Linked DNA regions of Homo sapiens. The protein of the gene in region 2 interacts with the protein of the main gene of each other region in a pairwise test. Each region holds a gene or a part of one and is shown on either strand. Other genes may lie near its edges. The genes, in order: PTCD1, CFTR, TRAFD1, UNC119, MCCC2, YTHDF1 and AHCYL1.

What was found.
Region 1: the proteins of CFTR (region 2) and PTCD1 interact in binary tests that used the Homo sapiens proteins (3 or more experiments, as listed by UniProt).
Region 3: the proteins of CFTR (region 2) and TRAFD1 interact in binary tests that used the Homo sapiens proteins (3 or more experiments, as listed by UniProt).
Region 4: the proteins of CFTR (region 2) and UNC119 interact in binary tests that used the Homo sapiens proteins (3 or more experiments, as listed by UniProt).
Region 5: the proteins of CFTR (region 2) and MCCC2 interact in binary tests that used the Homo sapiens proteins (3 or more experiments, as listed by UniProt).
Region 6: the proteins of CFTR (region 2) and YTHDF1 interact in binary tests that used the Homo sapiens proteins (3 or more experiments, as listed by UniProt).
Region 7: the proteins of CFTR (region 2) and AHCYL1 interact in binary tests that used the Homo sapiens proteins (3 or more experiments, as listed by UniProt).

Annotation. Positions count from the first base shown.
Region 1 is NC_000007.14:99,425,008-99,429,038, forward strand, and holds part of PTCD1 (pentatricopeptide repeat-containing protein 1, mitochondrial), read right to left. Parts: intron 610-4,031; coding exon 1-609. Other genes in the region: ATP5MF-PTCD1 (ATP5J2-PTCD1 fusion protein), read right to left, coding at 1-609. UniProt on the Homo sapiens protein: Mitochondrial protein implicated in negative regulation of leucine tRNA levels, as well as negative regulation of mitochondria-encoded proteins and COX activity. Also affects the 3'-processing of mitochondrial tRNAs.
Region 2 is NC_000007.14:117,665,025-117,669,696, reverse strand, and holds the end of CFTR (cystic fibrosis transmembrane conductance regulator), read right to left. Parts: intron 4,239-4,672; coding exon 4,133-4,238; intron 2,790-4,132; coding exon 2,589-2,789; 3' UTR 1,032-2,588; downstream 1-1,031. UniProt on the Homo sapiens protein: Epithelial ion channel that plays an important role in the regulation of epithelial ion and water transport and fluid homeostasis. Mediates the transport of chloride ions across the cell membrane.
Region 3 is NC_000012.12:112,128,188-112,132,218, forward strand, and holds part of TRAFD1 (TRAF-type zinc finger domain-containing protein 1), read left to right. Parts: intron 1-2,323; 5' UTR 2,324-2,335; coding exon 2,336-2,382; intron 2,383-4,031. UniProt on the Homo sapiens protein: Negative feedback regulator that controls excessive innate immune responses. Regulates both Toll-like receptor 4 (TLR4) and DDX58/RIG1-like helicases (RLH) pathways.
Region 4 is NC_000017.11:28,545,677-28,549,624, forward strand, and holds the end of UNC119 (protein unc-119 homolog A), read right to left. Parts: intron 3,030-3,948; coding exon 2,916-3,029; intron 2,426-2,915; coding exon 2,323-2,425; intron 2,174-2,322; coding exon 2,001-2,173; coding exon of another isoform or gene 1,948-2,000; exon of another isoform or gene 1,734-1,947; coding exon 1,621-1,733; 3' UTR 1,032-1,620; downstream 1-1,031. UniProt on the Homo sapiens protein: Involved in synaptic functions in photoreceptor cells, the signal transduction in immune cells as a Src family kinase activator, endosome recycling, the uptake of bacteria and endocytosis, protein trafficking in sensory neurons and as lipid-binding chaperone with specificity for a diverse subset of myristoylated proteins.
Region 5 is NC_000005.10:71,593,447-71,597,477, forward strand, and holds part of MCCC2 (methylcrotonoyl-CoA carboxylase beta chain, mitochondrial isoform 1 precursor), read left to right. Parts: intron 1-2,833; coding exon 2,834-2,918; intron 2,919-4,031. UniProt on the Homo sapiens protein: Carboxyltransferase subunit of the 3-methylcrotonyl-CoA carboxylase, an enzyme that catalyzes the conversion of 3-methylcrotonyl-CoA to 3-methylglutaconyl-CoA, a critical step for leucine and isovaleric acid catabolism.
Region 6 is NC_000020.11:63,194,631-63,199,364, reverse strand, and holds the end of YTHDF1 (YTH domain-containing family protein 1), read left to right. Parts: intron 1-2,630; coding exon 2,631-2,657; 3' UTR 2,658-3,936; downstream 3,937-4,734.
Region 7 is NC_000001.11:110,018,734-110,022,764, forward strand, and holds part of AHCYL1 (S-adenosylhomocysteine hydrolase-like protein 1), read left to right. Parts: intron 1-141; coding exon of another isoform or gene 142-186; exon of another isoform or gene 187-317; coding exon 318-386; intron 387-814; coding exon 815-893; intron 894-1,997; coding exon 1,998-2,118; intron 2,119-2,940; coding exon 2,941-2,947; coding exon of another isoform or gene 2,948-2,993; 3' UTR 2,994-4,031. UniProt on the Homo sapiens protein: Multifaceted cellular regulator which coordinates several essential cellular functions including regulation of epithelial HCO3(-) and fluid secretion, mRNA processing and DNA replication.

The DNA.
Region 1 (4,031 bases), about 18 Mb from region 2:
CAGCAGCAAGGACTCTGCAGGACTCCCGGACTCCACCACCTCGGCCAGTAGCGTGAGGGTCCTGATGTCGGGCTGCTGCCTGTGCTCTGCCATCTTGCTCAGGAAGCCCTCCAGGCCCCCTATCAAGGCCAGCCGGTCAGCTGGGGTGGTCACCGTTCCAAAGGAGACCACTGTAGGGGGAACGGCCCCGGGGGTCAGGAGGTTGACTTCCAGCTCCACGGGAGGTGGCTTCAGGGCCACTGCGGTGAGGGCTGCTGTGTGGCTGGGCTCTGCCTTAGTATCCACCTCTGGTTGGGCCTTGCCGGGCACTCTGGCTTCCGGAGGCTCTGGAGGCCCAAGTGCCTGAGAAGGTTCCAGAAACAGCTGCCTCTCCAGGGCCTCCACATGCAGCATGGCTGACATGAGGTTGCCTGCCTTGGCCTGGGCTGTCCTCCTTGGCCGCTGCCTGCTCACTGGGGGCTGAAGCACAGTCGCCTCCTCCCTGGGCTTCAGAAGCAGCTCTGAGGCCACCTGGGGGTCCCCTAGGCCACAGTCCCGAGCTGCCACCAACAGCAGGTTGTAGCTGTCCCGGCTCGGCTGTAGCCCTAGACTCAGCATCAGCCGCCACACCTGCCACGGAAGAGACAAACGTCAGCTGGGTGCTCCCATTCAGCAGCTGGGCGCAGGGCTCACGCCTGGAATCCCAGCACCTTGGGAGTTTTAGATGGGAGGATCCCTTGAGATCAGGAGTTCGAGACAAGACCGGGCAACATAGCAAGACCCTGCCTCAAAAAAATACGCCAGGCGCGGTGGCTCACGCCTGTAATCCCAACACTTTAGGAAGCTAAGGCAGGCAGACTCCTTGAGATCAGGAGTTCGAGACCAGCCCGACCAACATGGTGAAACCCCATCTCTACTAAAAATACAAAAATTATTGGGTGTGGTATTGCATGCCCACAGTCCCAGCTACTCAGGAGGCTGAAGTGGGAGAATCACTTGAACCCAGAGATCGAGGTTGCAGTGAGCCGTGATCATGCCACAGCACTCCAGCCTGGGTGACAGAGCGAGAGTGTCTCAAAACAACTGTAAAACATTTAAAAAATTGGCCGGGCCTCTCCCTCTCCCTCTCCCTCTCCCCCTCCCTCTCCCCATGGTCTCCCTCTCCCTCTCCCTCTCCCTCTCCCCACGGTCTCCCTCTCCCTCTCCCCACGGTCTCCCTCTCCCTCTTTCCACAGTCTCCCTCTGATGCCCAGCTGAAGCTGGACTGTAACTGCTGCCATCTCGGCTCACTGCAACCTCCCTGCCTGATTCTCCTGCCTCAGCCTGCCGAGTACCTGCGATTGCAGGCGCGCGCCACCACGCCTGACTGGTTTTTGTATTATTTTGGTGGAGACGGGGTTTCGCTGTGTTGGCCAGGCTGGTCTCCAGCTCCTAACCGCGAGTGATCCACCAACCTCGGCCTCCCGAGGTGCCGGGATTGCAGACGGAGTCTCGTTCACTCAGTGCTCAATGGTGCCCAGGCTGGAGTGCAGTGGCGTGATCTCGGCTCGCTACAACCTCCACCTCCCAGCCGCCTGCCTTGGCCTCCCAAAGTGCCAAGACGGCCGCCACCCCGTCTGGGAAGTGAGGAGCGTCTCTGCCTGGCCGCCCATCGTCTGGGATGTGAGGAGCCCCTCTGCCTGGCTGCCCAGTCTGGAAAGTGAGGAGCGTCTCTGCCCAGCCGCCATCCCATCTAGGAAGTGAGGAGCGCCTCTTCCCGGCCGCCATCCCATCTAGGAAGTGAGGAGCATCTCTGCCCGGCCGCCCATCGTCTGAGATGTGGGGAGCGCCTCTGCCCCGCCGCCCCGTCTGGGATGTGAGGAGCGCCTCTGCCCGGCCGCGACCCCGTCTGGGAGGTGAGGAGCGTCTCTGCCCGGCCGCCCCGTCTGAGAAATGAGGAGACCCTCTGCCTGGCAACCGCCCCATCTGAGAAGTGAGGAGCCCCTCCGCCTGGCAGCCGCCCCGTCTGAGAAGTGAGGAGCCCCTCCGCCCGGGAGTCACCCTGTCTGGGAAGTGAGGAGCGTCTCCGCCCGGCAGCCACCCCGTCCGGGAGGGAGGTGGGGGTCAGCCCCCGCCAGGCCAGCCGCCCCGTCCGGGAGGGAGGTGGGGGTCAGCCCCCCACCCGGCCAGCCGCCCCGTCCGGGAGGGAGGTGGGGGTGGTCAGCCCCCTGCCCGGCCAGCCGCCCCGTCCGGGAGGTGAGGGGCACCTCTGCCCGGCTGCCCCTACTGGGAAGTGAGGAGCCCCTCTGCCCGGCTAGCACCCCGTCCAGGAGGGAGGTGGGGGGGTCAGCCCCCCGCCCGGCCAGCCGCCCCGTCCGGGAGGGAGGTGGGGGGTCAGCCCCCCGCCCGGCCAGCCGCCCCGTCCGGGAGGTGAGGGGCGCCTCTGCCCGGCCGCCCCTACTGGGAAGTGAGGAGCCCCTCTGCCAGGCCAGCCGCCCCGTCCGGGAGGGAGGTGGGGGGGGTCAGCCCCCCGCCCAGCCAGCCGCCCCGTCCGGGAGGTGAGCGGCGCCTCTGCCCGGCCGCCCCTGCTGGGAAGTGAGGAGCCCCTCTGCCCGGCCACCACCCCGTCTGGGAGGTGTGCCCAGCGGCTCATTGAGAACGGGCCATGATGACAGTGGCGGTTTTGTGGAATAGAAAGGGGGGAAAGGTGGGGAAAAGATTGAGAAATCGGATGGTTGCCGTGTCTGTGTAGAAAGAAGTAGACATGGGAGACTTTTCATTTTGTTCTGTACTAAGAAAAATTCTTCTGCCTTGGGATCCTGTTGATCTGTGACCTTACCCCCAACCCTGTGCTCTCTGAAACATGTGCTGTGTCCACTCAGGGTTAAATGGATTAAGGGTGGTGCAAGATGTGCTTTGTTAAACAGATGCTTGAAGGCAGCATGCTCCTTAAGAGTCATCACCACTCCCTAATCTCAAGTACCCAGGGGCACAAACACTGCAGAAGGCCGCAGGGTCGTCTGCCTAGGAAAACCAGAGACCTTTGTTCACTTGTTTATCTGCTGACCTTCCCTCCACTATTGTCCTATGACCCTGCCAAATCTCCCTCTGCAAGAAACACCCAAGAATGATCAATAAAAAAAAAAAAAAAATTGGCCGGGCGCGGTGGCTCACGCCTGTAATACTAGCATTTTGGGAGAGCAAGGCGCCGGATCACGAGGTAGGAGAGCGAGACCATCCAGGCTAACATGGTGAAACTCTGTCTCTACTAAAAATACAAAAACAAAATTAGCTGGGCATGGTGGTGGGCGCCTATAGTCCCAGCTACTCAGGAGGCTGAGACGGGAGAATGGTGTGAACCCAGGAGGTGGAGCTTGCAGTGAGCCGAGATCATGCCACTGTACTCCAGCCTGGGCGACAGAGCAAGACTCCATCTCAAAAAAAAAAAAAAAAAATTAAAAACATTAAAAAGAAAAAGAAAAAAAAAGCTCTCCAGCGGGGAGCTGTGGTTCACACCTGTAATCCCAGCACTTTGGGAGGCCCAGGCGGGCAGATCACATGAGGCCAGGAGTTCAAGACCAGCCTGGTCAACATGGTGAAACCCCGTCTCTACTAAAAATACAAAATTAGCTGGGCGTGGTGGCGGGCGCCTGTAATCTCAACTACTCGGGAGGCTGAGGCAGGAGTATCGCGTGAACCTGGGAGGCGGAGGTTGCAGTGAGCCAAGATCGCTCACTCCAGCCTGGGCAAGAGTGAGACTCCATCTCAAAATAAATGAATGAATGAATGAATGAATGACTCCTGGGTTGCACCTGCAGAAGTGCTAATGGGGGTGTGGGAGGGTTGAACAAGTCCCCAGGTGAGTGTGTGGCAGGCTTTCAAGGAAGGTGAGTTTAGAGGGGCTAAGCCGACTGCAAAGCAGGGTGGGAGGGGCGGGGGCCACCCTCATTCCATCTCCAAGGGCCTCCTCTCCCTGCCATCTGTAGAATGGAGGCTACAGTGGCTGCTGGGTTTTCAGAAAAGAGCACAGATATAAAAATACTCAGCACAGGGCCATCGTGGGTGCTCACAGG
Region 2 (4,672 bases):
TTGTGTTCTATAAGCCTCCATTTAAAAATAAAAATAACTTCAAACATATCCTAAGTAATGAAAGCAGGGACATGAAGAAACATTTGTACACCCATATTTATAGAAGCATTATTCACTATATCCAAAAAGTGGAAGCAAACCAAGTAGCCAGTGATGGATGAATGGGTGAGGAAAAATGTGGTACATATTTATAGAGTGGTCCCCCTATCCAAGGTTTTGCTCTCTGTGGTTTCAGTTACCTGTGGCACAGTATAATGAGATATTTTGAGAAAGAGAGAGACCACATTTGTATCGCTCGTGTCATAATATATTGTTATAATTGTTCTATTTTATGATTATTGTTGTTAATCTATTACTGTGCTTAATTTATAAATTAAATGTTATCATATGTATGTGTGTATGTATAGGAATAAACACAGTAATCAGGTTCAGTGCTATCAGTGATTTCAGGCATCCATTGGGGGTCTTGGAACATATTCCCCAAGGATAAGGGGGGACTACTCTATAATGAATATTATTCAACCTTAAGAAGGAAGAAAATTGACCCATGTTGCAACATGGATGAGGCTTGAAGACATTATGCTAGATGAAATAAGCACAAAAATACAAATACTGTATGATCCCACTCCTAGGTCCTTCGAGTAGTCAAAATCAGAGACAGAAAGTAAAATGGTGGTTGCCAGGCATTAGAGGAAAGATAAATGCGGGATTATTGACTAACGGGTAAAAAGAGTTTCAGTTTTGCAAGAAAAAAATTCTGTGGAAGGATGATGGTGATATTTGCACAACCATGTGAATGTACCTAATGACACTGAACTGAACTTTAAAATGGTTAAAATGGAAAATTTTATGTTATGTATATTTTACCATAGTTTAAACAGATAACTAAAAATGTGTGTTCTAATTCATGTGAATTCTCAAAAGAGGCTATATCTAAAAGACAGATTCGTGTTTCATGTTCCATGAAGCTTAGAAATTGGAGTGAGAGACTGATGAAACATGACAAGTGAACGCATCTGAAAACAACAAAGTTTCACACAAATGTATGGATTTTATTGACAAGTGATATTTTCTTACAGTAATAAATATAATGCAGTCTTCTTAAGAGTCAGTTTGGAGTTGAGAAGGCAGTGTACCCTTGATGGAAACAGTCAGACTGGTGGTACCATCTTCTTCAGAACTGCATCTAAGAGGCTGTGCTGGCTGGGAATCATACAGCTGTGGGCAACAACTGCATCAGCCCCAAGGCTTCCCTCCAGACCAAAAGGTGATTCATGGCCCCTGGTTAATATCACCCTAGGTTCTCCCCTGTCCCAGTTTTAACATAATATTTCATAGAAATACTAGTGCCATAAAAAGTCAATATTTCAAATATAAAAATTATTTTATACAAATGTAATTCATAATCATTCTTTTAAAATACAGCATTGTTATATATGTTTGAAACATTATTAAAATAAATATTTCCTAGAGAAAAAATTTTGCTTCACAAAATTATAAAACAGAAGCATATAAAACTAATTCATGATTGGTGCTTCTTCAGTGTGTCTCTCATTCTCTCTTAGTGTAGACAGCATGAAGTACATACATCTAGCCTGAAAACATACCACCATCAACCTATACATCTAAATGCTTGGACTTCATGTGTGTCTACCCACAGTGCCCATGGCCTATCTACTTACACACCCTCTACCTGGAGCTTCTGTGGAAAGAAGGGCTGTCCTGTGACAATTTGCACTAACATACTTTTCCAGCTAAACTCTAGTTCAAAGGTCTGTGAGCTTGTCACTTTCTGGAGTTGGGAAAAGGCATATCAACTTCTTCATCAAGGGAACCATCCTGTCCCCTGTGAAAGATTATAACAGCCCTTTCCCAGGTAAGGGATGTATTGTGATTATCTGAAATATTGAGATTTTTGGTAGACCTGGACAATACTAACCCTGATTTCCAGGATCTGGAAGTTCTCTTTCCTGACTGCTCACTAGATGTTGAATGGGGCATATTTTGATGTGCAGTCTTGTGGTTCCTGTGGTATTCTAATACTTGCTTGGAAATGAGATAGTTGGAATGCTTAGCAAACAATATAGTTGTGTTTCTAAACATCATGGGGAGAGGAGAGAAAAAGGAATACAAGCTTATATAAACCGCTGAAGTTTCCAGTTATCATTACTTAATCATAACCCTAAGAAGTATGATTTCAGTTCTTCTCCAACACTACAAATTAACGAGTTTCACTAGACAATAAGCTGATCAACTAGGCTGATTGACATTTAGAGCTGCCTTTCCAATTACTAGCACATGGCAAGGGTTTTCAGGAAAATCTGGCTTGCAAAACACAAGTGGTAAATCTTCAAGGATTTGAAGTACCTTTCACACAATTTGACTATTGCCAGGAAGCCATTTATCAAGACCCATATCAGTGTCCTCAATTCCCCTTACCAAATGTTTCTTTTTTAAAAAAAAACTTAATTCATCCTTGTTTTCTGAGGCAGAGGTAACTGTTCCACGAGCTCCAATTCCATGAGGTGACTGTCCCACGAGCTCCAATTCCATGAGCAAATGTCCCATGTCAACATTTATGCTGCTCTCTAAAGCCTTGTATCTTGCACCTCTTCTTCTGTCTCCTCTTTCAGAGCAGCAATCTGGGGCTTAGACTTGCACTTGCTTGAGTTCCGGTGGGGAAAGAGCTTCACCCTGTCGGAGGGGCTGATGGCTTGCCGGAAGAGGCTCCTCTCGTTCAGCAGTTTCTGGATGGAATCGTACTGCCGCACTTTGTTCTCTTCTATGACCTAGGGAAATGGCTGTTAGTGAGATCTGGGACAGAAGGCAGGTCAGACCAGAGCAGGGACAGAAACTGGCACAGGCTCAAAGGAAAATAAAAGTCAAAGAATGCAATGTCCAGAGCCTTGCATTTTGAACAATCAGGTATGTCACATTTAACTGCTGTGTCCTTTTGCTCTAAGGAGGTTCTACCATCTGTGAAATTAGTTGTGATTTTCTACTCAGCAGCTGGAAGATTCTTCAGGGAGGTTTAGTAGAACTGAAGTTGCTTTGAAAACAAAATATTAGGTCCCTTATAAATTACCTAGAAAATGAGCGTAAGTCTACAGCACCATAAAGAGTTGAGCCTCTTCCACAGTGATCTGAAGCTTAAGAATTCCAAATTGGTCAGGATGTGCCTGAGTTTAATACACCTCCTTGGCTTGTTCAGGTTGAGCAAATCCAAGATCAGACAATAGAGGACTTTACTTAGATTCTTGAACTTGTCCATGGCAGGGCAAGAGGTTGTGAGTCTGCCCCCCTAATTTGTTACTTCAAGCTTAGTGATAATCATGGTAATAACAAGCCTTCAGTAAGGAAACCATTTACCTCCAGGAGGCTCAAAAGCCTGAACAGAAATGACGTGATACATCATCCTCAGAACTTCCTTGTGACTAAACCATAGGGAATTTGTAAACATCACTTGAAAGAAGCTGTGACAGTTTTGTTTTGTTTTAATAAAGACAGATGGGGCCTCACTATGTTGCCTGGGCTGGTCTTGAATTCCTGGCCTCAAGTAATCCCCCCACCTCAGCCTCCCAAAGTATTGGGATTACAGATGTAAGCCACTGTGCCTGGCCATGTGACAGTTTTTTTAAGAACAGTGAGAAGGTGGTTGAGAAAGGTACTACCTGAACCCAAATCATGGCTAGAAAAATGAAATGTGCCTCTCAACTTTGTCATTAATACCATAAATCAGACTGTAAGACAACTAGGCCTGTCCCAGACCACATCCATGGGACATTTAGTTATTGAAAGAATCACAGGGACCTTTTTTAAAATCTTAAACAGTAGAGTATTTTGTATGACTTGGTCCCCAAATAAAGGGCTCAAAAAGTATATATATCCTATTTATAAACATAACTTAGTAATATGCTGCCATTTTAGATTTACTATATTTCAACCTCACCACATGGCTCAGATCAAAGTGAAAAACTTGTGCAGCTATTTTGAGTAAAGCTGGATGGCTGTATGATACATATTTTTGAAAAGAACTTGTACATTGTTGCAATTTGCAGGAACTATCACATGTGAGATTGTTATCAAGAATTACAAGGGCAATGAGATCTTAAGTAAAGTTATAAAGACTCACCAAAAATTGTTGGCATTCCAGCATTGCTTCTATCCTGTGTTCACAGAGAATTACTGTGCAATCAGCAAATGCTTGTTTTAGAGTTCTTCTAATTATTTGGTATGTTCTAGAAAAGAAAGAAAATACCACACATAATATCACAGAACAGTAATGATCTGTATTTACCTTGATAATATGTCTATTGTTCTATTATCTCTTTAAATTACTTATTTCTTTAAGTTCTTTTCACATAATGTTGATATAGCGTTAGCCACAATCAGCTTTTCAACCATGGGGTAGACTCTAAGTATCCATAAATAAACAGGACAAATATTTCAAAGAAACTTTAATAAATGAGTACATTTTTCATTATGTAGAATCACCAGTACTTCTTTATTTGGGGCTATAAACATGCTTATGGTATAAATGGGATACAAAGGCAAATCATAAGGATCAGATTAGGCCCATGTATTTAAAAGCTTCATCATGTGTTGACAAGGGGGAAGAGTTTGTATGAAACTAAAAACTATCTTCGGAAGAAAACACAAGACTCTTAGCAAG
Region 3 (4,031 bases), on a different chromosome or scaffold from region 2:
GTAGAGAGGTGTTTCGCCATGCTGGCCAGGCTGGTCTTGAACTCCTGACCTCAAGTGATCCGCCCACCTCAGCCTCCCAAAGTGCTGGGATTACAGGCATGAGCCACTGGACCCAGCCTCAAAGTATTGTCTTAATTAAGCATGTTGAACAAATGACTAAATACATGTTTTGAAAAGTGGCAACTCGCTTGATAATGCCAAAACCTTTAAAGAACCCTACTGGGGGCAGGATTTAAGACCATTTTTGTATCATGGAAAGGAATAATCTAAACTAAACAATGGTAGTAAAGTTGCCAGTGCTTTGCTTTCTGCATTGACATCTTGTTTAAAAAGCAGGAGAAACTTTATAGTGAAGAAATTTGGCAGACACCATATCAACTATGTGATCATGGTTTACATCAATAGTAAAATAAGACTGTTGACATCATGTACCTTCTGATATAAGGCACTGAGATGAGCACAACATGATTTCTATGGTGTTCTTGCCAAAAATATATAACCTGAATTTAATCATGAGAAAATATCAGACAAACCCAAATTGAAGGATATTATATAAAATAACTAGCTGGCTGGGCACGGTGACTCATGCCTGTAATCCCAGCACTTTGGGAGGCTGAGGCTGGCTGGTGGATCATATGAGGTCAGGAGTTTGAGACCAGCCTGGTCAACATGGTGAAACTCCATCTCTACTGAAAATACAAAAATTAGCTGGGCATGGTGGTGCACACCTGTGGTCCCAGCTACTCAGGAGGCTGAGGTCGAGGTTGCAGTGAGCCGAGATCGCAGTGAGCCGAGATCGCACCACTGCACTCCAGCCTAGACAGCAGAGTGAGACTCTGTTTAAAAAAAAAAAAAAAAAAAAAGCCAGTATGCTTAACAAGGTCATGAAAGAGAAGGAAAGACTGAAGAACTCTCCCAAATCAAAGGAGATTAACTACAAGTAATAGCCAAATGCAGTGTGTGATCCTAGATTGAATGCTGAACCAGAAAAAGGGTGGGATGGTGATTTTTTTTTTTTTTTTTTTTTTTTTTGAGACAGGATCTCACTCTGTCACCCAGGCTAGGGTGCAGTGGTACAATCACTGCTCACTGCAGCTTTGACCTCCTGGGCTTAAGTGATCTTCCCATCTCAGCCTTCTGAGTAGTTGGGACCACAGGTGTGTGCCACCACGTCTGGCTAATTTTTAAATTGTTTGTAGAGAAGGGTTTCACCATGTTGCCCAGGCTGATCTTAAACTCCTGGGTTCAAGCGATCCTCTTCAGCTCAGCCTCCCAAAGTTCTGGGAGTACAGGCATGAGCCCCTGTGCCTGACTTGTTGGTGAAATTTGAATGAATTCTATAGATTAGTTACTAGTATTGTATTAGTGTTAATTTCCTCTATTTGATAATTTTACTATTGTTATGATGCTTTTAGGGTAATTGGATGAAGTCTGTAAGGGATGTTATTTTATTTTTATTTATTTATTTATTTTTGAGACGGAGTCTTACTCTGTCGCTAGGGTGGAGTGCAGTGGCACGATCTTGGCTCACTGCAACTTCTGACTCCCTGGTTGAAGCGATTCTCCTGCCTCAGCCTCGCGAGTAGCTGGGATTACAGGCATGCGCCACCACACCCAGCTAATTTTTGTATTTTTAGTAGAGATGGGGGTTTCACCATGTTGGCTAGGATGGTCTCGATCTCCTGACCTTGTGATCTGCCTGCCTCGGCCTCCCTAAGTCCTGGGATTACAGGTGTGAGCCACTGCGCCTGGCCAGGATGTTATTATTATTATTATTTTTGAGACAGGGTCTCACTCTGTCACCCAGGCTGGAGTGCAGTGGCATGATCATGGCTCTCTGCAGCCTTAAACTCCTAGGCTTAAGCATTCCTCTTGCACATTCCTCCTGCCTCGGCCTCTCGAGTAGCTGGGACTACAGGCACACATCACCATGCCTGGGTAATTTTTTTTTTTTGTATTTTTTGTAGACATGACGTTACCCCATGTTGTGGCCAGGTTGGTCTTAAACTCCTGGGCTCAAGTGATCCGCCTGCCTCGGCCTCCCAAAGTACTGAGATTACAGGCATGAGCCACTGTACCCAGCCTAGTAAAAGTATTTTATTTTATTATTTTTATTTTTTAAAACTCCCTTATCCAATAAAATTATTTTAAATTGAAAATTTTAAAATAAGAAAATCCCAAGGGACTGGATATTGAATAAAATGCTTTAACATGCAGGTTTGGGTGACAGTTTCTGTATACTAGTTTTTTATTTGTTTTTTTGCATGTCATCTTTAAAGCAGAAATGAAAGAGAAAGTTCATGTCTTCCTTTGTGGTTTTCAGGAAGAGCTAAAGATGGCTGAATTTCTAGATGACCAGGAAACTCGACTGTGTGACAACTGGTAAGACATTAAATCTAAGAAATGTTAGTGGAATGAGGACAGTCAAGCTTAATCACTATCATTTCCTGATTTAAAAACTGTTAGTGAAGACTGGCACAGTCTTGAGTTAAGCTTTCTATTTTGGTGTTTATAACCCACATGAATTACAAGAAAGAGCATCTCTTTCCTGATGAAATGAAACCGGTTGTAAAGTTAATAATCAGCTGGTTCCTGTTGGGGTTTTCCTAAGAACTTATCTTGGTATCTTGGTGCTATACAAGTGCTGTTACTGTAAGCTGACAAAAAAAGCAAAGCAGAACTGTCTGCTATGTTTATTACTTTATTTTCCTTCACTGGGTACTTCTTTCACAATGTGCTATGTTTACCTTAGCAAACTGTGGTAGAAAGAGATGTGGAATAAGGAAAATAGTTTAACTCATTGGTGGAATATTTGAGCCAAATAACATTTTTGTCATCATCGTTGTCTTTTTCTTTCTTCTCAGCCTAACTTTGGCAGAATTAGAATATAATTAGAGCAACAGCTGGTTACAATATTCTTTACCTGCTTGGAATTAAGATTTCATCTCATTGTAGGTGTCTTGCCATATTGTAGAGTATTTCTGCTATGCCACTATCACTTTCTACCATTTCATAAACTATTTTAGTTTTGTTTGGGTTTTATATGTATAGCTACTGAAACAGAGTAATCAGAAACAAATAATCAAAAGAAAACATGATTTTGTAAGAAAAGAGACACATTGGTTTTTAGCATTAGTTAAGATACACCTATTTTATCAGTCCACTCCAATTAGGAGGAATCTCAAGCCTAGGACAAAATATAAATAACTATGCTAAGAGAGTTAAAGGGTGAGTTAATGGAAAGCTAGTGAAAAACAATGCTATTCAAAGCCAAAGAAATTAAAGAAAAAAGCAGATTAGCATAGAAGGCTGACTAAACCTGTAAAGAATTAATTTCTGGCTGTTTGTGTTTAGTGTTTGGAAAGTTCTTGGGAATTTTTCTGGAAGCTTTGGTTTGCCTTTCAGCTATTTCTATCTAAATGAAATTTCACCTCTAATTTGCTAGCCCTTCCTTGAGACTTTTAGCAGTTTTATCTGGATACGGAATTGTGTGCTCATTTATCTCACTTAAAACATCTTCATTTTCTCCGAAGGTAGGAAGTAAGCATATTAGTATTTGGTCTGGTTGGAATGTTTGGTAGGAATATGTTGGCAGTTAAATTTTAAAAGAAAAAAACCCAGCAGGCAACTGTTTTATATAATTGTTGCAAATATCTTTTTTATTTCAGCATTTCCTAAGAGGTGAATATGTGCAATAGTAAATGCTTTGTGGTCTTACTTGACAGCTGCTTTTGATTCTTGTTGCTTCATATTATGATGGTGTGGTCCTTAATATTTTTTGTTTTAATTCTAAAGTTTTAGGGGCCTTGTGTATGTAGTATGTCAACAAGTTATCCTGAACAGCCTTGTAAAGTAAATGCTAGACATTTAGTGTCTCCATATTTACCATTAAAATAAAAATTATTGCCAATATTATGAAAAAGGAACCCAGGTTTTCTACACCCTAAGCAGTAATTACTGGCTTTAATTTTCATGGCATTTGTACATACATGATTTACAATCACAATATAACATTTCTTCTTTCACTTTGT
Region 4 (3,948 bases), on a different chromosome or scaffold from region 2:
GACCCCATCTCAAATAAATAAGTAAACAAACAAACAAACACCTGACAAATCTTGCCTCTGAGCCTTTGTTTATGCTGTTCCCTGTGCCTAAGCACTCTTCCCCATCAATTTCCATCACAAGCACCTGCTCCAGTGCTACCTCCTCTAAAAATCCTCCCCAGAACCCTCCACACAGAACGACTCTGATTCTTGCTCTCCGTGTCCCCAGTCCTTTTTTTTTCCCTAGGGACGAGTATGTGTTCCTTGTGTCTCACTCATTTCAGAATTCCCAGAATTCAGTGCAGATCCTAGCTCCACCCCACTTCCCCCAGCAAGGGCTTCACAGAATCAAGCTGAATGCCAGCACTTCTGGGCCTCCTAGGGCCAGAGCTCCTCAGCCCAGAGGGTGCGTCAGCTCTGGGCATATCTGAAGGAGGGCCTGAAACTGTAGGGTGTGCTCTCTGCCCACCTCAGTTCCTGAATTTCCTCCATTAAGCAGCCCCCTCCTCTGAGTCTGGGGTGGGGGTGGAGGCTGAGGGCAGTGTTATGTGCAGGGCTACCCAGGCATGGGGGCTCCCCAAGGCAGCTGAGGGCAAGGAGATGGCTCCAGGCCTTAGCCAAAGCCCTGCCACCGTCTATCATGAGGGCTAAAAACACAACCCAGTGGTCCTAGTGGCCTCTGGGGTTCAGGGAAGGTAGCGTGGAGGACAAGGCCAAACCCCCACCCCCCACACCTTCCCCTTGCACCCTGGAGTTCAGGGCCTTTGTTTCGGCCTCTGTTCTGCCAGGGTTGGCTCTGACTTTGGGCCAAAGCTTCCCCTCTCAGGGTCTGGGTCTCCTTCATCACAAGAAAGACCCTCTCCAGCTCCATCATGTTCTAAATGCTGACTCTATATGGTGTCAGGGTACAGAGAATCAGGGGACAGGAAGACTAAGGGGTGAGAGTGCACTGGAATGTGGGAGGTAGGAGAAATTTTTACTGCCTTAAGCACATTCCTGCCTATCCCTGCTCCCTTCTTTGCCCATACACACAGAGGCTGGCCACACCAGAGAACAGAAAAGGAAAAAGTTTATTGAAAACTATATACAGTTGGTCCAGCTCCTACCATGGGCTGCAATCTCAGCCAGTCCCTCCCACACCTTAGGCAGTGTCTTGGCCCCTCATGGGGAGGGATGGGGCTAGGCCTAGGGCCCAGACTCCCTTGGGTGGCTTGGCAGCTGGAGCCCACCGTGGATCTTTGTAAATTTACAACTCTAAATGGCCTGAAGGTAGTGGGCAGGGGACAGGGAATGGATCCCTGCCTGATCTAGTCACAGCCTTGATAGGGGAACACTATTCTGAAACTTGGGCCCAAGTAGGGCCCAGCTAAGTTGTCCGGAAGTCCTGACTGCTCCTCTCACAGGCCTTCCTAGACGTGGAGGCAAACAGCCTCCCTACGACCCCACCCCATGTAGCAGGCCGCATGGGCTTCATGGGCTTGACTGGGGACACCAGGTACCCTTCCTCCCAACATTGACTCAGGGTCCGGAGCTCCTGGAGAACTCCCCAAGCAGAGGACTTGGGGTTGAGGGGTGAGCGTTGGGGAGGTCACAGCTCCCAGCCCAGAACTGGAGCCTCCTGGGGTCAGGGCAGCCGTGGGGTCAGGGTGTCCCGCTGTAGGAATAGTCTGCTTTATTGTGCATCACCAGCCGGTCATCCACGAAGTAGAAGCTGTCAGACTGGGTCTCATACGGGTGGCGGATCATCTCGCTGACTGCAAGAGAGGCCCAGCCAGGCCGGGCAAAGGTCAGGAGCTTGAGTCCCGCCACTGCAGGGGCTTCAGGACTGGGGTACAGGGACAGCCAAACAGCCTGAAATATCCCCAGCCTCTTTCTCTACGGATGATATGGGAATGGTGGCAGACACAGAAGAGCCCCAGGGTGGGGAGAAATGGGATCAGACCCACAAGTCCCTCTCCCTCCCGCAGCTCAGTCTCTAGACGCCCCCACTTCCCCACTCCCAGAAGACCCTGCCCGCGCACTCAGCTCCTCGGAGAGAGGGGGGAAGTCGTAAATGTGCTCGCAGGTGTTCTTGCTGCTGGGGATGCAGAAGCCAAAGTGGAAGTCGAAGCTTTTGAGTAGCTGGTTGCGGAAGTAGTGCCTCTCGATCATGCGGAAGTTGTTGACAGGCTTGTCTCCCACTGTGAACTCCACCCTGAGCAAGAAAAGGAGGCAGGGCTAAGTCTGTCCTTGAAGTCAACTAGCCAGCCAGGCTCAGGACAGGCCACCCCTACGAGAGGCTGAGAAGGGCCCACTCACACCCTCTCCCTCACCCCCACCACCACCCATAGCCCAGCGACTCACGTGGCTCCCACCTGCCTCAGGCGGAGGAAGGCAGGCGTGAACTGGTAGCGGACAAAGCGCCCAGCATTGGGGTCCAGGTCCCGCCGGTTGATGGGCAACCGTTCTGCAATGTACCCCAGCTGGGGCTCAGTGGGCTTCAGGCTGGGCCCTTGTCCACCCAGGGTTCTACCCTTGGGTCCCCATCTATCTGATTTTTTTTAAACTCCCCAAGAAATTCCGGGGCACACTGAGGGCTCAGACCATTGGCCAAATAGTGCCACCTAGGGGTTCTAGGTCTGCATGTTCCCAATCGCCACTGTGCTTCCCCGGGCCACAGGATGCTGAGGCCTGGGACCCGTAGGACTGCAGTTCCCAGAGAGCCCTGCAGAGGGCAGGTTGGCAGGGACCGAAGGGGTAGGGCTGACCTCGCAAGATGTCCAGCCTCAGAAACATATGGGAAGGAAAAGAAAGGGCCCCCCTGCCTGCAGACTCCTGAGAATGCTGGGGTCCAAGCCCCAGCTCTGTGGACTCCTCTGTGGCCCAAGGATTCCCTGGGCAGCCCACTCCGCAGCTCCTATCTGCCTCCCCATCAATGGCCCACCCAGCCCACTCACCTGAGACTGGGGGCTTCTTGATTTCAAAGAGGACAGTGCCTGAGTCCATGTCCCGAATCTTAAACCTGACAAAGTCGATCTTGTAGATATTCTCCTCAGGGGAGCAGAGGTAGTCTAGGGGAAACAGGCAGCTGAGCAAGGAAGGGGCCGCAAAGCCCCTGCTGCCAGGTCAGCTTGTGTGGGACCCCAGAGTAGCTACCATCTTCTCATCCCTGGGATCACTGCCCTCTGGAAAGAGGGACCTCAGTCCCTGCCCTTGGGGTACACCCCCAGTGTGGAAGAGACATAACTCCGCCATGGGGATCTAACAGGGGATAAGGAGTGCCATCCTACTGGTCTCTGGGGGCCAGGGAAGGGCAGGGCAGAGAAGGGTAGAGGACAAGGCCACCTCCTGAACACTCTCTCTCCCACTCTGGAGTTGAGGGTCCTCATTCTGGCCTCCGCTCTGCCAAGGCTGGCTAGATGACTTTGGGAGAATTAGGTATCCAGCCTGGTGGGAGCCTCTCTTCTCATATGGGAACAACTTCCTGCAGTCTGACCTGTCTCTTCTACTGCAACTCAGTGTATCAACTTCTCTGGTACCCTGCCTTTGAGAACCACCTGTAAAGGGGGCCACACAGCTCTGTCTTGGGAGAGTCACTGTCCTTCTCTGGAGGATACTCCTACCCTCACCCCACAGCTGCCCCTGGCATGACATCTAGATGTATCAGGTGAGGCTGATGTTAAGGGGACTTTCCCTGATATGGGTGGGGCTGGGGCAGGTGAACAACCCCTTCCCTATTCCTCCTCTCCTCCAAACCCCCTCCTCTCAGTAAGAAGCTTACACCAGCCCAGCTCCCTTAAGCAGCTTAACCAAAGCTCTGCTGACTCAAGCCCAGAGCCTGGGATATGGCAGGTGGGAGGAGGCCAACTTTGCTCTCATCCTTTGTTGATCTCCAAATGGGAGGAAGTCTTAGCAAGCAGAGAGAACCCCCTTAGAGGTCATTTACGCAGCCCTGGCTATGAGCCACCACCATGGAGAAAGTAGTCCTGG
Region 5 (4,031 bases), on a different chromosome or scaffold from region 2:
TTCCTATTACTTGGCCAGTTTTTCTCTTCATAGAGTACTACCACTTTTGGGGGGAAAAGTAAAGATTCAAATTCATAAATTTTATGAATAAATAATTTATTTTTAATTTTTATTAATTTTTTTTTTAAGAGATGGGTTCTTGCTCTATTGCCAGGCTGGACTGAACCCCTGGCTCAAGCGATCCTCTCATCTTGGCCTCCCAAAGTGCTGGGATTACAGGTATGAGCCACCACACCTGGCCAGTGATTTCTTAGTAGGCATTTAATATTTCCTCCCTAAGTGCTGAATCTCAGATGGAAAGCATTCTTCATATTTGATAGACTGTTTCAGATAACTTTTATCAACAAGTATATAATACTTAAAATTGTATATAATACTTTTAATGTAAAATTTTACATTTAGGTTAGAGTAGTTTAAATACTGGATCTCAGGAGTATAAAAATAGTGAAGAAGACTGGATTTGGAAAGTATGGTCTAGAATTGCTTATTTACTAGTTTATTTAGAGACAGGGTCTCCTCACTCTGTTGCTCGGGCTGGACTCGAAGTCGGGAGCTCAAGTGATCTTCTTGCCTCAGCCTCCCAAGTAGCTGAGACTGTACCTGTGCCCCTGTACGCAGCTATGGAATTCATACTTTTGAAGCCATTTTAGATCAAGGTGTTGTCTCCAGAAAAAGAATTCAAACTCTTGCTGAAATGAAAGTGTTTTGTTAGGGGTGATAACTCAATTGTTATGCCCATTTTGAGAGTTTGATTTGGTGAACTCACTGTCCCCCTTAGACATTAAGATGGTGGGTTTTGGGGCCAGGCACAGTGGCTCACGCCTGTAATCCCAGCACTTTGGGAGGCCGAGGTGGGCGGATCACATGAAGTCAGGAGTTCGAGACCAGACTGAGCAACATGGTGAAACCCTGTCTCTACTAAAAATACAAAATTAGCTGGGTGTGGTGGCGCATGCTTGTAATCCCACCTACTCGGGAGGCTGAGGCAGGAGAATTGTTTGAACCTGGGAGGCGGAGGTTGCAGTGAGCCAAGATGGTGCCATTGCACTCTAGCCTGGGTAACAGAGCGAAATTCCGTCTCAAAAAAAAAAAAAAAAGAGGTGGGTTTGACTCAATGGAGGGTTGAGGAGTCCTGTGGCATCAGGTGCCTGCTGGGGATGGTGGATGCTGAGGAACCGTGGTGCAGGCTGGTGGCCACAGGAGGGTAGAGGACTGAGCCGGACTCCCTGGGGAAGGAGGTAGGGAGAAGGGGGAAAGGACAAACTTGGCTGTCACAGCTTTGCCAAGAATTAAATGTCAGGGGAGCTTAATTATGTGCTCTGTGAGCCTGCATCAAGGATAACCCTCTTTCTGGTTCTTCCTAATAAAACCAGAATTCACCAGCTGCTCCAAATTGTAAGGCCCCACTCTAGACAGAATTGCTAAAGAGTGATGTTGTCTTAAGTCTCTCTCTTTTTTTTTTTTTTTACTGAGACGGAGTCTTGCTCTGTCACTCAGGCTGGGGTGTAGTGGCGCGATCTCAGTTCACTACAACCTTGGCCCCCCGGGTTCAAGCGATTCTCCCGCCTCAGCCTCCCGAATAGCTGGGACTACAGGCATGCACCACCACACCCAGCTAATTTTTCATATTTTTAGTAGAGATGGGGTTTCACCATGTTGTCCAGGCTGGTCTCAAACTCCTGGCCTCAAGTGATCCACCCACCTCAGCCTCCCAAAGTGCTGGGATTACAGGCATGACCCACCTGTCACTTTGGGAGGTCAAGGCAGGAGAATTGCATGAAGCCAGGTGTTTGAAACCAGCCTGGGCAACAGAGTGAGACCTCATCACAAAAATTTAGCTGGAGTGGTGGCACATGCCTGTAGTCCCAGCTGCTGGGAAGCCTGAGGTGAGAGGATCACTTGAATTTAGGAGTTCAAGGCTGTAGTGAGCCATGCTGGCACCACTGCACTCCAGCCTGGGTGACAGAGTAAGATCTTGTCTCAAAAAAAAAAAAAAAAAAGGTCCTACTTGGAAGATCGTTTGAGATTATTTTCTTGCCTAAATAAACAAAGAAATAGCTTTCTGAAATAGCTGAACATTTCATTAGACAAAGACTATATTAAGATGAAATTCTTGGACACCAATAAAAATAAACTAATGTTTTAATTATTAAAGGTACAATTTGATACTTCTGTTCTTGCTCCATTACCTTGGTTTGCCGAGAGTGGGTTATAGATATTCCCAAGAATACTCCAGTGGGCTCTTCAGTTATAATTTTCTTTGTCTGTCATGATGTGAGCAATGTTGAGAAGCACTGAAGACAATCTCTGAGTCAAGGAAGGGGACTTTTAAATTGCTAAAGTGTTCAACTCACCCAGTTGCAAGCCTAAAAAGTTACGGATCACTAATGTCATCTTTAGGTAAATTTACTGCACTTATCATGGAAGTAATTTCTAAAATTTTATTTTTACCTGGTACAAATGAAGATAGGAATTTTCCAGATCTATCATAGCATGTATTTAATAAATGTGGTGGAGATGAGGCATTATTTGCAATATGTGAGCTGCAGAGAAAATACTCTGTAATTTATGTAACTACTAGTGAATTCAGAACATAGACTCTAGGATATACTCTAAAATCAGGGATAGATTGATTTTTTTTTAATACCAGTTTTTACATTTACTTCAGAAAATTGGCAACTTGTAAGTTGAGTGAATGATTATTAGCCTTTTCTCAGAGGATATGTTGAACTTTTAAAAAGTGCTATATTTTGGATTAAGTATTATGTTTTTCTGGCATTGAGACCTTTTTATCGTGTCAATCTAATCTAATCTAATCACATTTCTATCATAGGAGGTGGTGAGAAAGCCCGAGCACTTCACATATCAAGAGGAAAACTATTGCCCAGAGAAAGAATTGACAATCTCATAGACCCAGGGTGCGTACATAGCCAAGTACTGACTCAGAGTGTTCTCTGTTCCATAGTACTTTATTAGACAGTCTTGTAAATCAGTTATTTTGAATTCTAGTTCTCATCGTAAGATTCAGGAACATGTGTTTATTGAGAGCCTACTATGTGTCAAGCACTATGTGTTGACATGTTTATTGAGAGCCTACTATTGGTCAGGTACTAGTGATATATCAGTGACCAAAACAGACACAGATCTTTGCTCTACTAGAGTTTACATCATAGCAAAGGGAGACAGAAAGCAACAGTAAAGACTGTAACTTCTGGCTGGGTGTGGTGGCTCACTCCTGTAATCCCAGCACTTTGGGAGGCCGAGGTGGGCGGATCATGAAGTCAGGAGATTGAGACCATCTGGCTAACATGGTGAAAACCCGTCTCTACTAAAAATACAAAAAATTAGCTGGGCATGGTGGCATGTGCTTGTAGTCCCAGCTACTCGGGAGGCTGAGGCAGGAGAGTCGCTCGAACCCCAGAGGCAGAGGTTGCAGTGAGACGAGATTGTGCCACTGCACTCCAGCCTGGGTGACAGAGCGAGACTCTGTCTCAAAAAAAAAAAAGATTGTAAATTCTGTAGTGTGTTAGTAAGTGACAAATGTCATGAGAAAAAGAAAAGGTGGCCCAGGGTAAAGGAGAGGAAGATATAGGGCAAGTTGCAGTTTTAAGAGGTGGTGCCAAGGTAGGCCGCATTGAGAAGGTGATGTCTGAGCAAAGATTTAAAGGAGGAGAGAGAGAGAGAGAGCCTTGTAACTCTCTGGGGAAAGAGTGTTTCAGGCAGAGGGAATGGCCAGTGCAAAGGCCCTGAGGTGGGAGTGTGCCAGGTAATGCTGGTATGCTCAAGGGGCAGCCAGGAGGCTGGGGTGGTTGTGGTGGAGGGAGTGAGGGGAGAGGAGTAGGAGATGGGTCAGATCCTGTATGGCCTTGTGGGTTATCATAAAGGTTTTGGTTTTCACCATGGGAGAAATGGGGAGCTATTGTAGGGTTTTGAACAGGAGATGATTATGATCTGACATAGCTTAAAAGAGTGCTTCTGGCTGCTGTGTTGTGAGTAGATGGAGCAGCAAGGGTGGAAGCCCTGTGACCAGG
Region 6 (4,734 bases), on a different chromosome or scaffold from region 2:
TGTGCTTTTAGTAGAGATGGGGTTTCACCGTGTTAGCCAGGATGGTCTCGATCTCCTGACCTCGTGATCCGCCCGCTTTGGCCTCCCAAAGTGCTGGGATTACAGGCGTGAGCCACTGCGCCCGGCCGAGTCAGTGCAGTTTTAAGAACAAAGTAGTGTGCCGAGGAGAGGGTTGTGCGCCTGTGCTGGTAGAGCCCCCGGGCGGTTTTCTCAAGGTTCTCTCAGGACTTCGAAGAACAGACCCACCTTTTCTTTATCATTTAGAGTTTGGCCCCATTGCTGTAAAGGTCATAAACAAGTTGAGTGTTGAGAAAGTGAAGTAGAGTTAGCATTTTGCAAGATTGCTGTCCAGCTATAAATTTAGAAACATACTGATTTCTTAGGATGGCAGTAGCTTTTATGGCAGCAGAGTCAGACCAAGTCCTGGGTTGATACATTTTTTGGTTTTAAAAAAACCTAGAAACGGCCACTTCTTAGCTTAAAACAGTGAAAGTGGTGAGCGTCCCACACTGTGAGCATTGCTTAGTTCCTCAGACTGACTGTCCTTGCCCTGGCGGCAGGTGCCCCTGACCTGACCCCACTTCGACCTCCAGGCCGGCTCAGCAGAGTGGCTCTTTGACTTTGGAAATTAAGAAAGAGCATAGAGAATCTTAGGCCATAAGCATTTCCTGGATGCTTGTTGAGCATTCCTCAAAAGAACGAGCTGTGCTTCGTCATTTTTTTTTTTTTTGAGAAATTTTATGAGGAATAGTATTTTTTAAAGAGCACATAGTAAACTTTGTAGCTGTTTATAAGGGCTGAAGGGAGATGGGGATCTGGGGAGTTTACCTGTGAGTGGCTTTAACATCAGCTATTTGAACTCAAGAGATTGGTATTTGCTTTTTAGGAACAGCAGTACCTCTTTTGTTAAGAGATTGATTGATTGAGAGTTTCGCTGTCTCCCCCAGGCTGGAGTGAAGTGGCACAATCTCAGCTCACTGCAACCTCTGCGTCCTAGGTTCAAGTAATTCTTGTGCCTCAGCCTTCAGAGTGGCTGGGATTACAGGCGCCGGTCACCATGCCCTGCCAAATTTTTTTTTTTTTTTTGTATTTTTAGTAGAGGTGGGGTTTTACCATGTTGACCAAGCTGGTCTCAAATTCCTGAGCTCAGGCAATCCACCCACCTTGGCCTCCCAAAGTGCTAGGATTACAGGCATGAGCCACCACACCCAGCCTGGGAAGAGATTTTTTTTAACGGAGAATGTTTAAGAGAATGTAAAATACAGAGTTCTTAATTTTTCCAGTTTTACATTTGAGGGTAGGGAGGAAATGTTAATTCTTAAGAGTAGGACCTGCCTATCCAGGTCCTTAATCCAAATACTCTGGAGCCTTCTCGGGACAGGGAACACCACATCTGCTTCTGAGAGCAGCCACAGTTGAGGAGGCTGGTGTTTATTCCAGTGCCCAGCAAAGTTTATTATTAACCGGAAGACACATTCAGTCCATTTTTAGCAAAAGAGGAGGTTTCAGGTTAAATGTTTGGGTGTCCTGCCCGCTGGTTTTCTTTATTAGTTTGCATCTTGATAGATGGCCAGATGAGGGTGGATGTGCCTGGGATGCATCTTTTTGTTTTGTTTTTATTTCGAGATAGGGTCTCTCTCTGTTGCCCAGGCTGGAGTGCAGGGCAGATAATAGCTCACTGCAGCCGAAAACTCATGGGCTCAAGCGATCCTCTCGCCTCAGCCTCCCGAATAGCTGGGATTACAGGGTGCGCCACCACACTCGGCCTGGGACACCTCTCTAGCAGAGTGGTGCAGCGTGTGCTCCTTAGATCGCACATTTTCATCTTTGTATGCTGCCTTGTAAGGAGACTGAAGGGGCTTCTAGACCCTGCTACTCAGGGAGGCCAGTGTGGGAAAAGATTCGGGTGTAAGTCTCAAGCTTGTGTGTCACATACACTCTGGAAAAGATGATTCTCTTACGGGAGTGGGCAGCAAACCTGGTCAGAGGAGCTTTGCCTTGAGCCAGTCTAGCCGTGGGGGAGTGGGGAGGGGCATGCTCTTCCCCTTGGCGTGGGAGTGAGCTGGGGAGTGGGAAGGGCCTGAACTGGACAGGCCCACACCGGTCCTCCTGCCCTTCATTAGCCACATGACACAGCACCTTGTTAGCCAGTTGGAAGGATTTTGGTGTCCTTTGTGCCACTGAGAAGTTTAAATGAGATAAAATACAGAAGAACAGCTTCTGTCTCCCTGGCCTCCTTGAGAGCCTGGTGCGTGCCAGCTCCTCCCTCTGAGTGCAGAGAATTTCACATTGCTAAGTGTCTTTCCATGTGGAATGATAGTGGCACATGAGGGAAAGACAGCTGTGGGAAGTGAGGCTTCCCAGCAGACAGGTGGCCCATGTGACCGTTGTGGTTGATGCTTTTCTCCTGGTAGAGGGGGTGGGGAGAATGCCATGCCCAGTGTGGCCAGTCCCCCACAGAGCAGGCCCCAGTGCAGCTCAGAGTTGTGTGCTGGTGTGGCTTGGGTACCATTCAGGGTCCCGCCTCCAGATTTGCAGGTGCTGCTAAGGGGCAGCCTCGGATCTCACTTTTGGGAGGGATTCATTGGTGTGGTTACTCTGCGTTCAACTTTTGTTTTTTCTTTTTACAGGAACGGCAGAGTCGAAACAAACAATGAGGGCGAACCAGTTTCTTACATGTTCTAACGTTTGACTTTGAAAACAGTTTAAAACACGTGTGCTTGGTCAGCTCCAGTGTGTCGTCCCGTGCGGGGGTTGAGTGTTGCATCTTTGCCTTTCTTGTCGTTGATTTTTGCCCAGATGGATCTGCATTTATTTGTACTTTTTCTATGTATTATAATCCTGTAGAAGTCACTAATAAAGGAGTATTTTTTTTGTCAGCTTATCAATCAGACTGATCTAATGTGAAATGTAAGTATCCTTAAAAACAAAGCATCTATTTTGGCAGAAATTGTGTTCTTAAATTCAGTCATTTGATATTCTGTGAGACTTCATATTTCTCATCCCTTTATTGCTTTTTAGCAAACATAAGAAACCATGAGTCATTTTGTCATTTAGAGTATTCTGATAAAATCTCTTGAAAATACTGAAATCAAAAGGTTAATGATTTTTTGTTCATTCTGATTTGTCATTTTATTATCTGTTATCGGTCTAAAGTGCTAATTTACCCATTTGATTTTTCTGCTAGACAGATAACTTTTAATTTTTCAAATTTGGCAGACACTTTTTTTTTTTTTTTGAAAATCTTTCCTTCCAGATCTGTTGCCCACTGAACAGCCACCCGTCCCTCACTGTCCTGGTGTCCGATTGGGCTGGATGGTGTTGGGGCATGATGTGTGGAGGAACTGGAAGGTGCTTTAGGTCTGGTTCAGGGTCGGGCATTCTTTGTTGTTTGCACATCTTTTTAAATTTTACACCTTTTCTTAAGAATTCTAATGCCGTCTTAAGTTTTTATACCAATAATGCTGAGCTTTAAGTGTAGGATCTGGTAGTACAGACAGTGTGATGGATGATGCTGCTGGTTGTAAATTTCATCGTGTGTGTCTAATTTTTTTTCCTGTTGAATGGGTAAAAACAAAACAAAACTTTTTTTAGAAGATGAATTTGCTGTCATGTTTTGTGGAATGAGGGACCGTTGAGCTCACTACCACCTGGAGTTTGAGTTGAAGCATGAAAATGGTGCCCATGCCTGACGCTCCAGCGCCTGGATCTGCACGTGCCCTTGTAGAGGATCCTTACCGTCCTAGAGAGCAGACGCTTTCTGAAAACTACTTGCTCCAAAAGACCCTCTGAGTTAACGTTTCAGCTGTATCATTAGACTTGTATTTAGAGCGTGTCACTTCCTCTGAACTGTTACTGCCTGAATGGAGTCCTGGACGACATTGGGTTTTTCCTCTAGGAGAATACAAGCCTTAATAAACAATACTATTTAGCAAACTTGGTGTCACCTCATTCTTCACCCTACTTGATGAGTTTATGTGTTGGAGCTTTTTAAGCTGCAGAGCCATTCGGGGAGTCACCGTAGAAAGCCCTGTGTTTCTCAAGGTGTGGGATTCTCGTTCCCTCGCTTTGGAAGAGGGAGCTGTTAATTTCCTTAAGACTATAAACTACATGGCACCGTCACCCACCCCTCATCACATGAATGTGCAGACGCAGCGGTGCGTGCAGCACCTGGGCACCGCTACCCCCTTTCTGGACTTGGCTCCTCACCGTCTCTCTCCATTCATCCTCCAATGCCTCTTATTATTTATGCAATAAGAGTTTAATACCTGTTTAGTTTGTTTTCCTTTTGAGGTAAAATTTATAAGCAGTGAAATGCACATTGTGTACATCTGCAGAAGTTGACAAGTATGTGATAAAGTTATGCAATATTAGCCTCAGCCCAGAAAATCCTGAGCTCAGGCAATCCGCCCGCCTTGGCCTCCCAAAGTACTAGGATTACAGGCACGAGCCACCACACCCAGTCTGTGAAGAGATTTTTTTAACAGAATTTTTAAGAGAATGCAATGCAAAATACAGAGTTCTTAATTTTTCCAGTTTTACATTTGAGGGGTAGGGAGGAAATGTTAATTCTTAAGAGTAGGATCTGCATATCCAGGTCCTTAATCCAAATACTCTGGAGCCTTCTCGGGACAGGGAACACCACATCTGCTTTTGAGAGCAGCCACGGTTGAGGAGGCTGGTGGTTATTCCAGTGCCCAGCAAAGTTTATTATTAACCGGAAGACACATTCAG
Region 7 (4,031 bases), on a different chromosome or scaffold from region 2:
AGGCCTATGTTTCCCTGAATTTTATCTTTGGAGAGAGAGATATTTCACAAATTGGTCCCCAAAATAAAACCACTTTAAAAAAATCTACTTTTTACTAAGTAACACTATTTCCTAACCACAGCTGATTCTTTAACCTTTCAGACTCAGATGGATTTGCAGAAAATAGGAAAAAGCCTAGAGTCCTGATCTGGAACTGTAATTCTTCCTCTTCCAACTGAGTCTAGAGGGGTGTAAAGTCCTCTCCCGCTTTGGCTTGACTTGTATGCCATTGGAATCTGAGACAGAGCTCATCCCAGGGCTCTCTCTTACCTTTCCAGGGTCGTCTACTCAATTTGAGCTGCTCCACAGTTCCCACCTTTGTTCTGTCCATCACAGCCACAACACAGGTATGTGGCAAAATGCCTGCTTACACTGCACTGCAATTTGTGGAACTGGGCGTAGATCAGTTCCAGTGAGGGTGTACTGTACTATGTTCTCATCATCCTATTCTTTTTTGATGTAATAAATTGTGGAAACAGGTATTCTTAAGTATAGAAAAGAGTCACTAAGTCAGTATTCGTTGAATTGGCTGTTTTAGTTGAGAATATAATGTTCCAGCTTAGTTTTATTTGATTTGTTCTTTCGTTAGGAACTAAACAAAAACAACAAATCCTCTTAGGATGTGTGCTGCCCTTTAGTATAGGCAAAGTCCTAGGTACTGTGACTGTGGTAGATCACTGTAGTACTTACCCAAATGCTGTTTAACCTGGTTTTATTTTTATGTGCCTGTCTAAGAAATATTTTTGTGCTTTCTGGCCTTCTTTTCCCACCTTAGGCTTTGGCACTGATAGAACTCTATAATGCACCCGAGGGGCGATACAAGCAGGATGTGTACTTGCTTCCTAAGAAAATGGGTGAGTGAAAAACAGTGGAAATCTATGCAGACAGCTGCATAGTTTGGTAAAATGACTGCCATGAAAGGCATTGGATTTAGAGTCAGAGTTCCAATTCCTGTTCCTGTGCTTACTGGTTGTTTGACCTCAGGACAAGTTCTAATCTCTATGATCCTCAGTTTCTTGATTGGTAAAATGAAAATAATACTACATACATTGTAGAATTGTGTGAGAATCACAGCTAATGAGTAACAGTGCTTAACACAATGGTTTAGGGAGATGTTCTTACTCTAAGTAGCCTTATGAAGTTCAGTAAACTTCCCAGTGCAGCTGAGTACATACAGCCTTGGAACAAAATGAGAGAAACAAACACAGGTTTTATTGTCCATTTTCTGTGAGGATATGCAAACCATCCAATCTCTTGTAAGCAACCCATGCTGTGTTCATGTGACATAATACATCATCTCTAGTCCTTTGCCTTTCTGCACGGTGTACCCATCTCCCATATCTCCTTGGCTAGCCCAAATCCCTGACTTCTTAATGCTAAAATACTTCTTGCTCTCCTCTCCTCCAATAGCTTACTTCAGACTTTTTTTTCAGTGTATAATTATAAAAGGGAAGCTTATCTATGGAAAAGTAAAAATTCTGTGCCGACTACCTTAGAAATTCATGATCCTAAGATCCATGGATCTTATCCTAAATGAGTGTTATTGACACAGGGTCTTTCTAGCTTACTGGTGTCCACTTTGATTGCTAATTTGACTATAATCTAGTTAAGGAGGTTGCTGCAGGAAGGTAGGAGTAGCATGTGACATGTGGGCCACTGCAGGGAAGCCCCCTGCTTTGCCAGAGAAGGATAGAGAGGTAAAAGCCCACTCCCTTTTGTTACCCTGGTAAGTGGCTTTTCTGAACGCACTGTACATGTGCTGAGAGAAGCATCCTGCCCAGAAAGGCAGCTTTGAGGTTTTTTTTTTAATTAAGCAAATATTTCAAGTTGTGGATTCTTTCAGAGTTATTCCATCCCTTGTCTGCTTTCTTAAAAAAGCTTCAAATGAAAATGGGAAGTTATAACTTGAGAGACATTTTGAAAAGGAGTCTGCTCTCCTGCCACTTTGCTCTTCCTAGATGAATACGTTGCCAGCTTGCATCTGCCATCATTTGATGCCCACCTTACAGAGCTGACAGATGACCAAGCAAAATATCTGGGACTCAACAAAAATGGGCCATTCAAACCTAATTATTACAGGTAACCTGGGGAGAAGCAAGTGAAAAGCTCTTTTTCCCAGTATTAAACCAAGCAGGCTAGCCTGCTTCTGACATAAAGATCAAATGTTGTACCTGATTTTGAAGAATACAAGAAATCTGTTCCAGGCCAGGCACGGTGGCTCACGCCTGTAATCCCAGCACTTTGAGAGGCCTAGGCGGATGGATCACTTGAGGTCAGGAGTTCAAGACCAGCCTGGCCAACATGGCGAAACCCTATCTCTTAGCCGGGTGTGGTGGCGGGCACCTGTCATCCCAGTTACTCAGGTGGCTGAGGCACGAGAATCACTTGAACCTGGGAGGCGGAGGTTGCAGTGAGCTGGGATCATGCCACTGCACTCCAGCCTGGGTGATGGAGTGAGACTCTGTCTTAAAAACAAACAAACAAACAAAAAAACTGTTCCAGTTAACAAGGTAGATAGAGAAATTGTGGGAGATATCAGGGAGTTAGGGTTTTTTTGAAATTTTGGAGCCTGGGCCTCACCCTAAGAGATTCTGATATATTTGGTCTGCGATGGGACCAAATTTACAAAACATTATTTTGTAAAACCTCCCCAGATTATTGTAATGTTTAGTCAGGGTTGAAAAAACACTGACTCATTCCTGGGAACAGGCGGTAACACCAGAAATGGCATTGTCAGAGACCCTGTGGAAGAATAAGGGAGACTGGTGCCCTGGGGAATGACTGCAGGGATCCCACCCAGGCTGGGGAGGGGCCCTGGAGAAGGTGCTCTGTTTCCGATTGTTTTTTGGAATTCTCATATGGAAGACATAAGTGTTAACCAATCACTCTCTCTCTTTACAGATACTAATGGACCATACTACCAAGGACCAGTCCACCTGAACCACACACTCTAAAGAAATATTTTTTAAGATAACTTTTATTTTCTTCTTACTCCTTTCCTCTTGATTTTTTTCCTATAATTTCATTCTTGTTTTTTCATCTCATTATCCAAGTTCTGCAGACCACACAGGAACTTGCTTCATGGCTCTTTAGATGAAATAGAAGTTCAGGGTTCCTCACTCTAGTCACTAAAGAAGGATTTTACTCTCCCAGCCCAGAAAGGTGATTCTTTCTTTACCATTTCTGGGGACTTTAGTCTTAATTAGGTACCTTATTAACAGGAAATGCTAAGGTACCTTCTCTGTGGAACAATCTGCAATGTCTAAATCGCCTTAAAAGAGCCCATTTCTTAGCTGCTGAAATCAGTGCTCTTTCACTTCTTCAGAGAAGCAGGGATGGTACCTACCCGGCAGGTAGGTTAGATGTGGGTGGTGCATGTTAATTTCCCTTAGAAGTTCCAAGCCCTGTTTCCTGCGTAAAGGTGGTATGTCCAGTTCAGAGATGTGTATAATGAGCATGGCTTGTTAAGATCAGGAGGCCCACTTGGATTTATAGTATAGCCCTTCCTCCACTCCCACCAGACTTGCTCATTTTTCGAGTTTTTAACTAGACTACACTCTATTGAGTTTAATTTTGTCCTCTAGGATTTATTTCTGTTGTCCAAAAAAAAAAAAAAAGAAAAGAAAAATTAAGGAGAATTTTTGGTGTTAATGCTGAGGAATTGCTTGAGTGGTTAGTTGTTACCAATTTCTCTTTTGAACCTTTGGAGCTAAGGATGCTGAGTCTAGAGAAATGCTAGTCTCAAGCCCTGTTAAGTCCCTCTGTTTCTAGCCCGTAGTTCATAGCATCAGTGAACTGGAGCCACAACAGCAAATTCTATCAGCTGTGTACCATACAGCTTGTGCTGAAGGCGAATTTCTTGAGCCATTACTCAGTATAAAGCACTGAGTTCTATCTTTAGGATTTATCTTTAAGAGCAAATTTCTGGTCAGCTGTGCTTCTGCAACCTAAAATATTTAAAGGGAGGTAGGTGTGGGCAGGAGGAGGAATGA